Linked DNA regions of Homo sapiens. The protein of the gene in region 2 interacts with the protein of the main gene of each other region in a biochemical or structural test. Each region holds a gene or a part of one and is shown on either strand. Other genes may lie near its edges.

Region 1 (7,023 bases), on a different chromosome or scaffold from region 2:
AACTGCTCTGCTAAAACTGGCTGATCTTGTGGAAGATAAACCTCATTGAGTCTTAGTTTGTGCTTTTTTTAAAGTGAGATATTTAGTTAGACTAGTGATTTTCAAACTCTTTTTCCTAGTAGCAAGACTCTTTGTACGAAGAAAATCTTATCTGGATGCCCAACCCAGACAAGAGAGGTTAAGAGTCATTCTGGTTGACTTTGAAGGTGGACTGTCTTTTCTCCCATTGTGGCCATAGTGAAAGTGACTCTGTCTAAAATTTAGTGTATTTTTTCCCCCCAAAGATGGATAATGTGTTAATGGGACGATGTGAGAAGGATAAGAGGTAAGGATGTGGGAGTGAGCAAGGTGACAGATCATAGGCTATGCTTTTTCATATAAAAAATGAAGATGGGTATTACAGAAGATATTACTAAATTGTTTCTCTGAAAAGTCTTATAACTTATGACATGAAACTACATTAAATTATATGTGTCAACTTCAAAACATTACAGTACCTGAAGTGGACACTGCTTTGGCTGTATGACCCCAGTAAGGTAGGGTCAGATGGGCATCTAGGGGACTGGCTTTTCCTGCTTATCTAAGTGATAGAAGTTTTCACTGTTAAAACTTCATTTTATTGCTCTTATTTTTGTCACAAGTCCTTATGAGCTTGGTTGGGTGAAGGGTCACCCAGAAAAGAACCAGCTTCCACTTTCTTTAATTATGCAAACTAGAGCTAGGTGACTGAGAACTTGCTTTTGGTCTGCAAGACATAGGGAGTTTTGCAAGCCCCAAGGGAGTCCAGAATTTCCTGAACATGTTGCAAGGTGGCTGGATGGCTTTCTTCTGAAGTCATGCAATATTGTCCTTCACTTTGGTTATGACTGCAGAGGTGCTGGGAAGCAAAATGAAAACTATCACCTTGAAGCAGGCTTTTCTTCATAGGCCCCAGAGGTGAGGCCAGCTCATTTAAAGGGAATGGCTTGTGCTGCTGCTTTCATCTAAAGGTATTTTGATCCAATTCCACCTCCCAGCTCCTTTATTGGTAATGTTTTCCAAAACACAGTATTTTTGCTGAGGGAAGGACAGGCAAAGGCCTGAACATTTAGAGAGTAGAAAACTGGCTGGGTGTGGACCTTTTACAAAAGTTCATATTTTGCTAGTTTAATTTGGAAAAGGACACATGAATTCTCACAGAAAATGAGCTTTATTGGGGAACAATACATTTCATGAAGGCATTTCTTTATCAGGAATCACACAGGCAGCCCCACGCAGTCACTGCCCCACACCTTATCCTTCAGCTTGTGCTGCACAGGAGAGGAGTGGCTGGGATTCCTGACTAGGGCTTTGATGAGAGTGCATGCACACTGGAGCATGCTTCTTGGCCTGGATGGCAAAGTCCCAGGAGCCAGTCCTAACTCAGACTCTGGCCTGCCTAGGTACATTTCAGATGAAAGTCACCCCTGCTCCTTGCCCCACCCTCAGTCCAACAAAAATGTGCTTCTAGAAATGCTTACTTTTCTTTTTCTACGAAGGGCTTATAATGTGAGGCTACTAAAGATTTTCAGATTTCAGAATAGTACCACTTACCTTGGGCTAGGTTAATTTTTTAGAGAATTGATCTTGTCCCCTAATGAGTAGGAAGATCAACTGGTTTTTGGACATGACTATAAGCAGAAGATGCTAAATAATACCTTAAAAAGACTCCACTGGCCAGGTGCGGTGGTTCACTCCTGTAAACATTTTTTAATTTTTGTGGGTACATAGTAGATGTATATATTTATGGGTTACATGAAATATTTTGGTACAGGCATGCAATGTGTAATAATCACATCAGGATAAATAGGGTTTCCATCATCTTAAGCACTTATCCTTTGTGTTACAAACAATCCAGTTATACTCTTCAGTTATTTTAAAATTTTATTTTTTGAGACAGTCTCACTCTATTGCCTAGGCTGGAGTGCAGTGCCACAATCATGGCTCACTGAAGCCTTGACCGCCTGGTCTCAGGTGATCTTCACCCTCCTGAGTAGCTGGGACTATAGGCGTGTGCCACCATGCCCGGCTAATTGTTTACTTTTTTGTAGAGATGGGGTCTCCCTATGTTGCCCAGGCTGGTCTCAAACTCCTGGGCTCAAGTCATCCTCCCACCTCAGTCTCCCAAAGTGCTGGGATTACAGGCGTGAGCCACCGTGCCCGGCCAGGGAGCTCTTTCAGATTGGCTCCTGTGTCTGTCTGACATGCTTCTATCCTTTTGTTTTTGAGCACTTGCTTAGTTTCTGGTACTACAAGATGCTCCAGGCTTATCTTGCATTTTTTTGGCTCTAGCCTTAGAACCTAGCTATTTTCTCAAGAAGCCTGGGTTCTTTTCTATTGGAAAATATTTAGAAACCAAAATCCAGCACAGTACTTTGAACTGAATTCTGCTTCAGTCCTCCCAAACTAACATAAACTTGGCAGAAGTGTATGGGAGGCAGATGCAGCACCCTCCCAAAGCAGCTGGCCCTGTGGTGACTTGGTGGCAGTTGTCCACTTGGATCCTTAGTTTCTATACTGAGCTACTGGCTCCTCACCTGAGGTCTCTAGACTTGTAGGGCATGTGAGATAACTGAAGAGATATCTCTGGGCACAGAGAGGGAAGAAGTGGAGATACAGCAGCTTCCCTCATTTTTTAATTTTTAATTTTTGAGACAGTGTCTTGCTCTGTCACCCAGGCTGGAGTGCAGTGGTGCAATCTTGGCTCCCTACAACCTCTGCCTCCTGGGCTCAAGTGATCCTCCCACCTCTGACTCCTGAGTAGCTGGGACTCCAGGCATACACCGCCATGCCTGGCTAATTTTTTTTATTTTTGGTGGAGACAGGGTTTTGCTATGTTGCCCAAGTTGGTCTCAAACTCCTGGACTCAAGCAATCAGCCCATCTTGGCTTCCCAAAGTGCTGGGATTACAGGTGTGAGCCCCTGTGCCTGGCTAGCTTCTTTTTCTCTTTACCCTAGGTCACTAGGTCAGAGAGAGAGAGGCCCTGTTATAATCTTTGACTTTTAATAGCTTTATTAAGGTATAATTTATACACATAAACTTTACCTGTTTTAAGTGCATAAATCAATTATTTTTAAAGTTTATAAAGTTGTGCAAAAATGGCTGGGTGTGGTGGCTCACGCCTGTAATCCCAGCGCTTTGGGAGGCCGAGGCAGGAGGATCACCTGAGGTCAGGAGTTCGAGACCAGCCTGACCAACCTGGAGAAAACCTGTCTCTACTAAAAATACAAAATTAGCCGGGCATGGTGGCACATGCCTGTAATCCCAGCTACTCAGGAAGCTGAGGCAGGAGAAATGCTTCAACCCAGGAGGCGGAGGTTGTGGTGAGCTGAGATCGCGCCATTGCACTCCAGCCTGGGCAACAAGAGTGAAACTCCATCTCACACACACACACACACACACACATAAAAGTTGTGCAAAAATTACAACTTAGTTTTGGAACATTTTTGTCACCCCCAAAAGATCCCTTGTGCCCATCTGCAGGCAATCCATGTTTTCACATCAGACCCATGCAACTGCTAATTTAGTATATGCCTTTTCTGGACTGTAAATGGAAACATACCATATGTGGGATATTGCATCAGACTTCTTTCACTAAGCATAATGTTTTGAGATGCATCCATATTGTAGCCTATATCACTACTCCATTGTATACATATATCATTTAAAGAAATCCACCAGTTAAAAAAAAAAAGAAAAAGAAATAATCTGGGTATGTTGGTGCCTGCCTGCAGTCCCAGTTACTGAGGAGGCTGAGGCAGGAGGATTGTTTGAGCCCAGGAGTTTGACTTCAGAGTATGCAACATAGTGAGGCCTCATCTCTTAAAAAAAAAAAAAAAATCCAGTAGTTGATGGTCATTTGGTTTCCACTTTTTGACTAATATGAATGATAATGCTATGAACATTTGCCTACGAGTCTTGATGTGAACACATTTCCACTTCTCTTCTCATGGAATAGCAGGATCATATGGTAAACTTATGTTTATCTTTTTAAGAAACTGCCAAACTGTTTTCCAAAGTGGCTGCACCATTTTACATTCCCACCAGCAATGCATTAGGGCTCCAGTTTCTCCACATCATCACCAACACATATCTTTGTCTGTCTTTTTTATTATAGTCATTTTAGTGGGTCCAAAATGGTATCTAATTTTGCTTTTAACTTGTATTTTCCTAATGACTAGTGATAGTACACATCTCTTCATATGCTAAGCAATTTGTATATCTTTGCTGAAATATCTATTCAAACATTTTGTCCATTTTTAAGTTGTCTGCCTTATTTTTGAGTTTTAAGAATTCTTTACATAGTCTAGATACAAGTCCTCTATCAGATACTTATTATGGTTTGAAAATATTTTCTCCCAGTCTGTGATTTTTCAATTAATTTTTTTTTTTTTTTTTTTTTTTGAGACAGGGTCTCACTCTGTCACCCAGGCTCTAGTGCGGTGGTGTGATCTTGGCTCACTGCAACCTCTGCCTCCCAGGGTCAAGAGATCCTCCCACCTCAGCCTTCTGAGTAGCCAGGACTACAGGAGCACGCCACCATGCCTGGTTAATTTTTGTATTTTTTGTGGAGATGGCATTTTGCTCTGTTGTCCAGTCTGGTCTCAAATTCCTGAGCTCAAGTGGTCCACCCTCCTTGGCTTCCGAAAGTGCAGGGATTTCAGATGTGAACCACCTCCCCGGGCCAATTAATTTTCTTAATAGTTTTTTGAAACAAAATTTTATATTTTAATGAAGTCCAATTTATTAATATTTTCTTTTATGAATTGTGCTATTAGTGTCTTAAGAATTCTTCCTAAACCAAGGTCATCTAGGTTTTCTCCCATGTTTTCTTCTACATGTTTTATAGTTTTAGCTCTTACATGTAGGTGTGTGATCAATTTTGAGTTTATTTTTGCATATGGTAGGAGGTAAGAATCTAAATTAATTTCTTCTGCATTTGATATCCAAATATCCTAGCACTATTTGTTGAAAAGACCATCTTTTCTCCATAATTTCATTGGGATTTTTGTCAAAACTTAATTGATCATAAATGTGAAGGTTTATTCCTGGACTCTGTTCCACTGATCTGTATGCCTATCTTTATATCAGTACCACACTGTCTTGATTAATGTAGCTTTGTAGTAAGTTCTGGATCAGAATTATTTCTTCATTTTCAGAATTATTTTGGCTATTCTGAATCCTTTATGTTTTCATACAGATTTTAAGATTGGCTTGTCAATTTTTCAAAAAAGCCTGCTGTGATTTTGATAGGGATTGCATTGTAGATTAATTTGGGGAGAACTGCTATCTTAACAACATTTGATCTTCCAATTCATGAACATGGATTGTGTCTACATTTCTTGATACCTTCTTTAATCTCTCTGAATTTTTCTTTTTCTTTTTTTGAGACAGGGTCTTGCTCTGTTGCCCAGGCTGGAGTGCACTGGCACAGTCACAGCTAACTGCAGCCTCAACCTCCCAAGCTCAGGCAATCCTCCCAATGTAGCCTCTCAAGTAGCTGGGACTACAGGTGTGCAGCACCATGCCTGGCTAGTTTTTTAAAATTTAATAATTATTTTTTTTATTATACTTTAAGTTCTGGGTTACATGTGCAGAACATGTAGTTTTGTTACATAGGTATACACATGCCATGGTGGTTTGCTGCACCCACCAACCTGTCACCTACATTAGGTATTTCTCCTAATGTTATCCCTCCCTTAGCCCCCCACCCCCCACAGGCCCTGGTGTGTGATGTTACCCTCCCTGTGTCCATGTGTTCTCATTGTTTAACTCCCACTTATGAGTGAGAACATGCGTTGTTTGGTTTTCTGATCTTGTGATAGTTTGCTGAGAATGATGGTTTCCGGCTTTATCCATGTCCCTGCAAAGGACATGAACTCATCCTTTTTTATGGCTGCATAGTATTCCATGGTATACATGTGCCACATTTTCTTAATCCAGTCTATCATTGACGGGCATTTGGGTTGGTTTCAAATCTTTGCTATTGTGAATAGTGCAGCAATAAACATACGTGTGCATGTGTCTTTATTGTAGAATGATTTATAATCTTTTGGGTATATGCCCAATAGTGGGATTGCTGGGTCAAATGGTATTTCCAGTTCTAGATCCTTGAGGAGTCGTCACACTGACTTCCACAATGGTCGGACTAATTTGCACTCCCACCAACAGTGTAAAAGCGTTCCAATTTTTCCACAACCTCTCCAGCATCTATTGTTTCCTGATTTTTAATGATCGCCATTCTAACTGGCATGAGATGGTATCTCACTGTGGTTTTGATTTTCATTTCTCTAATGACTAGTGATGATGAGCATTTTTTCATATGTCTGTTGGCTGCATAAATGTCTTCTTTTGAGAAGTATCTGTTCATATCCTTTGCCCATTTTTTGATGGGGTTGTTTGCTTTTTTCTTGTAAATTTGTTTAAGTTCTTTGTAGATTCTGGATATTAGCCCTTTGTCAGATGGATATATTGCAAAAATGTTCTCCCATTCTGTAGGTTGCCTGTTCACTCTGATGATAGTTTATTTTGCTGTGCAGAAGCTCTTTAATTAGAACCCATTTGTCAATTTTGGCTTTTGTTGCCATTGCTTTTGGTGTTTTAGACATGAAGTCTTTGCCCATGCCTATGTCCTGAATGGTATTGCCCAGGTTTTCTTCTAGGATTTTTATGGTCCTAGGTCTTACGTTTAAGTCTTTGTTCCATCTTGAGTTGATTTTTGTATAAGGTGTAAGGAAAGGGTCCAGTTACAGTTTTCTGCATATGGCTAGCCCGTTTTCCCAACACCATTTATTAAATAGGGAATCTTTTCCCCATTGCTTGTGTGTGTCAGGTTTGTCAAAGATCAGATGGTGGTAGACGTGTGGTGTTATTTCTGAGGCCTCCATTCTGTTCCATTCGTCTGCATATCTGTTTTTGTACCAGTGCCATGCTGTTTTGGTTACTGTAGGCTTGTAGTAAAGTTTGAAGTCAGGTAGTGTGATGCCTCCAGCTTTGTTCTTCTT
Region 2 (7,821 bases):
GCACTCTGTGTCTAGCTAAAAGTTTGTAAATGCAACAATCAGTGCTGTGTGTCTCGCTAAAGGATCATAAAACGCACCAATCAGCACTCTGTCAAAACGGACCAATCAGCTCTCTGTAAAATGGACCAATCAGCAGGACGTGGCTGGGGCCAGATAAGAGAATAAAAGCAGGCCACCCAAACCAGCAGCAACAACCCGCTTGCGTCCACTTCCCTGCTGTTGAAGATTTGTTCTTTCACTCTTCACAATAAATCTTGCTGCTGCTCACTCTTTGGGTCCCTGCCGCCTTTATGAGCTGTAACACTCACCGCGAAGGTCTGCAGCTTCACTCCTGAAGCCAGCGAGACCACGAATCCACCGAGAGGGACCAACAACTCCGGATGGAAGGAACAACTCCAGACGCACTGCCTTTAAGAGCTGTAACACTCACAGTGAAGGTCTGCAGCTTCACTCCTGAAGCCAGCGAGACCACAAACCCATCAGAAGAAAGAAACTCCAGACATGTCTGAACATCAGAATGAACAAACTCCGGACACACCATCTTTAAGAACTATAACACCGCGAGGGTCCACAGCTTCATTCTTGAAGTCAGCGAGACCAAGAACCCACCAATTCTGGACACACTATGACAACCACTATCTTGGAATATGGTGTTAATCACTACTATGCATATTTTAATATAGGTATCTATAAACAAAAGAAGTACTGTTTTGCATGTTTTTAGACTTTACCCCCATAGCATTATTCGTCTGTACCTTGTTTTCTTAGCTCAAGATTTTGTTTGTTTTTCAATTCAGTCACGTTGTTTCATGCAGCTCTAGTCCATTCGTGAGAACTTTTCGATAGTATTACATTTTATTAATATCACAATTTATTTGTCCATTCTCAAACTAATGGAATGGTTTTTTTGTTTTCTTATTTTTTGTAAAGAAAAGGTTTCACTATGTTGCACAGGCAGGGTCTCACTTGTTTTCAATTTTGTTATTATGAAGCTGCAATAAACAATTCTTGAGAACAATACTTATTTCTAGAATATATTCCTAGAAAGAAAACTGCTAGGTCAAAGGATATATTTAATATATACCTCCAACTTCATCAACTAAGTTGATCTACAAAATAGTTACATATTTTTACATTCCCACCAAGTGGTATAAGAGTTCCTGTTTCTCTGCAACAATTATCCATATTGTCATATTATTTTGCCAAATTGATGAACATAAAGTGGTACCTCACTGGCTTACTTTTTCCTGATTTGTAAGATTAAGTATCATTTATTGACCTTTCAGGTTTCCTCACGTGAAATGCCTATAAACAGTACTGCCATTTTTTTTTTTTACTGATTTGTAATAGTTATTAAGAGAGTCTGGGTATCAACCCTATACTGATTACATGTGTTTCTAAATGCTCTCTGCAAAAACAAAAAACAAGATAAACCTGTTACCGATTCTGAAATCTAGTAAAATGTAAAAGCAAAGCTAATTCCTGACTTTTCAAAGTTCACAGCTACTTTCCAGACCTTTATATCAGTGTTTCTGAAACCTTTCCGTCCACTCACAGAAGATGAATTCCTCATTCAGGGCCAATACACACATACTTACACATAAACTGAAAAACAAGGCTGTAAATCAATTTCTTCTCAAGGATGGGTGACGTTTTCATAACCACAAACAATATACAAGGACAGATTGTCTCCATTATATACAGCCAACATTTTGGCTCACATTTTGGCTGTTACGTACATACATCATATAGCTTTCACAAGGTTCAGTAAGCAAGCGTCTATTTTGATTAATAACGGTTAAAACCTTTAACACTTGATAAAAAACCATCATATCCATCAGGATGTTTGCAACAATAATGAAGAGTGTCCACTCTACCCAATGAATTAAGAATTAAAGTACAAGCTCAGACTAAGCAAATGAAATTTTTTATTTTCAGTCGCACTAGGATAATTTTTTACAAAGTTGCTCTGCATACATGAACTGATTCTGAATATTTTAGTGACAGACATCTCAAAAAAGTTTACTTCATTTACAGGAACACTATCAAATGTTTTGCAAAACAAAGACACTGCATTAGGGCATATAATCATAGAATAGGAAAGGACTTTAGGTGACTTACTCTAAATCTCTCCTTTTCAGGTAAGGCATCTGCAACGCAGAAGTTATAAGAAACTTGCCCAATTGAGACCCTCTAAAATCTACAAATTCAGAGTCTTTTCCACTGCATTACCCATCTTCTTATATTAGACTTCTAAAACTATTCCTCTATTAATTTCACAAGAATAAGTTGCTGCGTTACAGAAATGACGGAAGTAACTCCCAAACCCACACCAATCTTTTTCTTTCCACTCCCCTACCTTCTCCCTCCCTTATCCTCCATTATCATTCACAGAATGAAAAAAATACCTGACCACCTGAATTTCTGGCCCTAATTGGGTGTGGAGTCCCAACCCCCTGCTACTGTTTCCGTGTTAAGCTAACCGGAGTTTTCTTTTTTAATTATTCATTCCTTTATTCAATAAATATCTAAGCCCAGACTTTGCAGAAGCGTGGTGCACGCAGCTCCTCCAAGCCCGCAGACCACCGCGCGCTGGCATCCCGACGCCGGGAAGCCGGGGGCGCTGGAGAAACGGGGTTCCCGGGGGCGCCTGGAGGCCGGCCGGGTGGTGGGAAGCGGCCGACATAAGCGGTTGACTCACCTTTCCGCAGCTCCCGCTCCCACACGGTGACGATGGGACGCGAGTGTTTACGGTGGTGAATGAGCCACAGGGACAAGGTCTGCACGCTCTGCTGCGAGTTGCTCAACTCCGACAGCTTCTTCTCCAGCGCCGCCTCAGAGAAGGCTGACATCCCTCCGACACCACGTTCACGCCGTCCCACGCGGTGGGGCCGAGGGGAGGAGAGTTTCGCCGCCCTAGCTGCGGCCTCGCCCCCTCACCCCACCCTTCCCCACGCTCTCACCACGGCCGCCGCTTCATCCAAGACCGGCCGCAAACCAGCAAGATGGCGTCCGGCCGGCAGTGACGTCACAGGGACCCACGCCCCGCCCCTCCCGCTGCAAGCCCTGGGAAAACGCGCGGCCGAGAAGTGGAACCGCCAGGCGGAAGGGGCGGAGTCGAAACAAGTGCAGGGGAGGCGGACAGGGGCGTGATGCCTGGGTTACTCTCAGAGGCATGGTGGGAGTTTGCCAGGCCTGAACCCTCCTTAATGGAAACTCTGTCAAAGAAGCAGTGATTACAGATCTCTACATAGGCATGTAAACTGGTATAAATTGGGGCAGGCACTTTAAAGACTATTTGCATGACCAATTACGGTTAAAAATACACCTTCCTAAATAGAGTATAGGATGGTGACCAGAGGCTGGGAAGGGTAGTGGGGGAGGGCTAAATAGAAGGACTAATAGAAGGACTAAATATAAATAGGACCTAGTATTTGATAGCATGACAGGGGACTAGAGTCAGTAATAATTTAATTGTACATTTTAAAATAACTAAAAGGATAATTGGATTGTTTGTAACACAAAGGATAAATGCTTAAAGGGATGGATACCCAACTTTGCATAATGCGATTATTAGGCATTGCCATGCCTGTACCAAAATATCTTATGTACTCCATAAATATATACACCTACTATGTACCCACAAAAATGAAAAATGAATAAAAATTTAAAAATTATAAGAATACTCTTTCCTAGCAATTTCACTAATTGCTGTCAGTGCTGGAAAAAACACCAGCATGTTTGCACCAGGAAGCTTATTCTAGGTGTTCAGTCCAACACAGTAACAGTGAAAAATTGGAACATTCACTGTTGCAGTCTACACAGATACGTCTATATTCCATAATACATGCAGCAGTTTAAAATATGGATTAATCCAAGATATGGTGGATTTGGAAGGGTTTGAGTGGGTTTTTATGAGGTTCTTTTTGAGAGAGGGCCTCACTCTCACCCAGACTGGAGTTCAGTGCCATGATCACAGCTTACTGCAACCTCGAATTCCTGGGCTCAAGCATTCCTCCCACCTTGGCCTCCCAAAATGCTGGGATTACAGGTGTGAGCCACCATGCCCAGCTGGATTTTTTTTTAATTACAGAAGCAAAAGTATAGTATACCACTTCTTGTTTAAAGGTATGTAGTTCATATGGGTTCACAAGTACGTAAACTCATGGCAAAGGTTTGGAGGAATACACACCACATGAATACTGGTCTCAGGGAGAGGATCAGAATTGGAGCCCTTAAATTGTGTCCATATTGTTTTCATTTTTACAAAAAGAATACGTGAATATATTACTTATATAGTTAAAAATTAATTACAGAAATCTCATTGTTAATCTAATGCATACACCATCATATTCTAAAATTTTTTTTGAGACCGGGTCTTACTCTGTTGCCCAGGCTGGAGTATGTGGTTCAGTCATGTTCACTGCAGTCTCGACCTCTGGGCTCAAGCAATCCTCCTCTGTGTCGGCCTCCCAAAGTGCTGGGAATACAGTTGTAAGCCACCATGCCTGGCCCTAAATATTAATACAAGAAACTTCCAGAAAGATACATAAGAAACCATAGGAATTCCTAAACTATCTTTTGACAAGCATCGTTCAAGAACTTTGCGGCCAGATGTGTGGCTCATGTCTATAATCCCAGCACTCTGGGAGGCCGAGGTGGGAGGATTGCTTGAGCCCAGGAGTTAGACACCAACCTGGGTAACATAGTGAGTCCCTGTCTTTACTAAAAATTTAAAAATTAGCTGGGCATGGTGGTATGCGCCTATGGTCCCAGGAAGCTGAGGTAGGAGGATCACCTGAACCTGAGAGGCAGAGGTTGCCGTGAGTCATGATTGTGCCACTGCACTCCAGCCTGAGCAACAGAGCAAGACCCTGTCTCAAAAAATGAAAAGGAAGGGCAGGGCACGGTGGCTCAAGCCTGTAATCCCAGCACTTTGGGAGGCCGAGGTGGGTAGATCACCAGGTCAGGAGTTCGAGACCAGCCTGGCCAACATGGTGAAATCCCATCTCTACAAAAAGTACAAAAATTAGCTGGGCATGGTGGTGGGCACCTATAATCCCATCTACTCGGGAGGCTGAGGCAGGAGAATTGTTTGAACCTGGAAGGCGGACGTTGCAGTGAGCCAAGATCGCGCCATTGCACTTCCAGCCTGGGCAACAGTGTGAGACTACATCTCAAAAAAAAAAAAAAAAAGAAAAGAAAGAGAAAGAAAAAAGAAAAAGAGAAAGAACTTCCAACAAGTAGGAACAGAATATGTATATCTGTGCCTGAGGTTCAGAGATATCGTTGTAGAGGTGAAGTTCACTCTTCCTTCACCTCTTTTCACTCCAATATCTATTCCTATCTTTACATTTCTTTCTTTCTCCATTATACATCTTTTTGTTTATCCAATCTATTTAGCCTAGTTTTTAACTTTAACTTAGTTCGAGTTTAACCTATCTTTTTTTTTTTTAAAAGGAGACAAGATATCGCTCTGTTGCCCAGGATGGAGTGCAGTGGCATCATCACAGCTCACCGCAGCCTCAACCTCCCAGGCTCAGGTGATTCCCCCCACCTCAGCCTACCAAGTAGCTAGGACTACAGGTGTACCATCATGCCCAGCTTATTTTTAAATTTTTTTTTTTAGAGATGGGGTCTCGCCATGTTGCCCAGGCTGGTCTTGAATTCTCAGGCTCAAGCCATCCTCCTGTCCCTGCCTCCCAAAGTGCTGGGATTATAGAACGTGAGCTACTGAGGCTGTCCAAACCTATCTATCCCCTGAGACCTTAAAAGTATCTTCAACAATATTCCATTCCATTCCACCAAAGACTACTTCCCATCTCCCAGTGTCTTCACCTGAGATTTCCACTCTTCTCATTCTCTATCTCTGTCTTCCTCTGTGTCTCAATTCTACCTAAAATTTCAGCTTAAATTCTGCCTTAAATTTCAGCTTTCTTTTCTTTCCACTCAGTCAATGTTAGATTCCTTCCTTGTGTTTTTTAATTACTGAATGCCTTATTTAGCACTTACACTACTAGTCTATGTTATTTACAATTTAATATATGTATTCTCTCTCTCCAGCTAGATTTAGCACTCCGTGACTCAGTCATAGCACCAACTCTTCTGTCTTCCTTGGTCCACAGTCTAATCTGGCTGTCCCTGCTCCAGGCTCCCAGAACATTCTATGTATGAATGTACCATGGCTTTTGGCACTAGGATGTTAGATCTACATTTATTGACGTTGTTACTTATAGCTATATTTTCAAAATATTGACTGTAACTATTTATACCTTTAGATACTTATGACTCGTTTTTATATCTTGTCTCTAAATTGGAAAGCAGGAGGTAAAATGGTCTCCATTCACAGAAGATATGATCTTAGATATAGATCTTGAAGAATTCACCCACAAAATTTAGAGATGATAAACAAATTCAGCAAAGTTGTGGGATATAAGATCAACACACAAAAATGAGTTGTATTTATATACACTGATAATAAATAATTTGAAAATGACATTAAGAAAAAAATCTTATTTACAATAACATCAAAAAAGGCTGAAATACTATGGAATAAATTTAGGCAAGGAAGTATAAGACTTGTATCCTGAAAACTACAAAATATTGGTGAAATATATCAAATACCTAAATAAATAGAAAGATATCCTGTGTTCATGGATTGGAGGATTTAATATTCTTAAGATGGCAATAATACCCCCAAGCAATCTTCAAATTCAATGCAATTCATGTTAAAATACCAATGGCCTTTTATGCAGAAATGGAAAACCTGACCTTAAAATTCATATGGAATTGAAAGGAGCCCTGAATAATCAAAACAATCTTGAAAAAGAAAAACAAAGTTGGAGGATTCACAGTTTCTTATTTCAAAAATTACTTCAAAGCTACAGTTATATCAAAACATATATCAGGCTAGGCGTGGTGGCTCACGCCTGTAATCCCAGCACTTTGGGAGGCCAAGGGGCTGGGGGCGGGGGGGGGGGTGGATCACAAAGTCAGGAATTCGAGACCAGCCTGGCCAATATGGTGAAACACCGTCTTTACTAAAAATACAAAAATTAGCTGGGTGTGGTGGCGTGTGCCTGTAGTCCCAGCTGCTCTGGAGACTGAGGCAGGAAAATCACTTGAACCCGGGAGGTAGAGGTTGCAGTGAGCCAAGATCGCGCCACTGCACTCCAGCCTGGGCGACAGAGCGAGACTCCGTCTCAAAAAAAAACAAAAACAAACAAAAAAAGCACACAAAACAGTGTGGTCTAGGCACAGTGGCTCATGCCCGTAATCCTAGCACTTTGGGAGGCCGAGGCGGGCGGATCTGTTGAGGTCAGGAGTTCGAAACCAGCCTGGACAACATGGTGAAATCCTGTCTCTACTTAAAATACCAAAAAATTCTCTGGGCGTGATGGCGGGCACCTGTAATGCCAGCTACTCAGGAGGCTGAGGCAGGAGAATGGCGTGAACCCAGGAGGCAGAGGTTGCAGTGAGCCGAGATTGCACCAGTGCACTCCAGCCTGGGTGACAGAGTGAGACTCCATCTCAAAAAACAAACAAACAAACAAACAAATAAACAAACAAAAAACCAGTGTGATATATTATTCAGCCATAAAAAGAGATGAAATAATAATGCATGATACAAGACAGATTAACCTCAAAAATATTATGCTAGCTGGCACAGTGGCTCATGCCTGTAGTCCCAACAATGTGGGAGGCTGAGGCAGGAATGAACCCTTGAGGTCAGGAGTTCAAGACCATCGTATACAACACAGTGAGACTCCATCTCTACAAAAAAAGAATTTTTTTTAAGCCCAGACATGGTGGCTGACACCA

What was found. Proteins that work in one complex are often made in the same cells at the same time.
Region 1: the proteins of RPRD1A (region 2) and RPAP2 interact in a biophysical measurement, tested with the Homo sapiens proteins (one study listed by IntAct).

What each region holds. Positions count from the first base shown.
Region 1 is NC_000001.11:92,393,036-92,400,058, reverse strand, and holds part of RPAP2 (putative RNA polymerase II subunit B1 CTD phosphatase RPAP2), read right to left. Parts: 3' UTR 1-7,023.
Region 2 is NC_000018.10:36,064,553-36,072,373, forward strand, and holds the start of RPRD1A (regulation of nuclear pre-mRNA domain-containing protein 1A), read right to left. Parts: upstream 3,008-7,821; 5' UTR 2,853-3,007; coding exon 2,702-2,852; intron 1-2,701. UniProt on the Homo sapiens protein: Interacts with phosphorylated C-terminal heptapeptide repeat domain (CTD) of the largest RNA polymerase II subunit POLR2A, and participates in dephosphorylation of the CTD by RPAP2.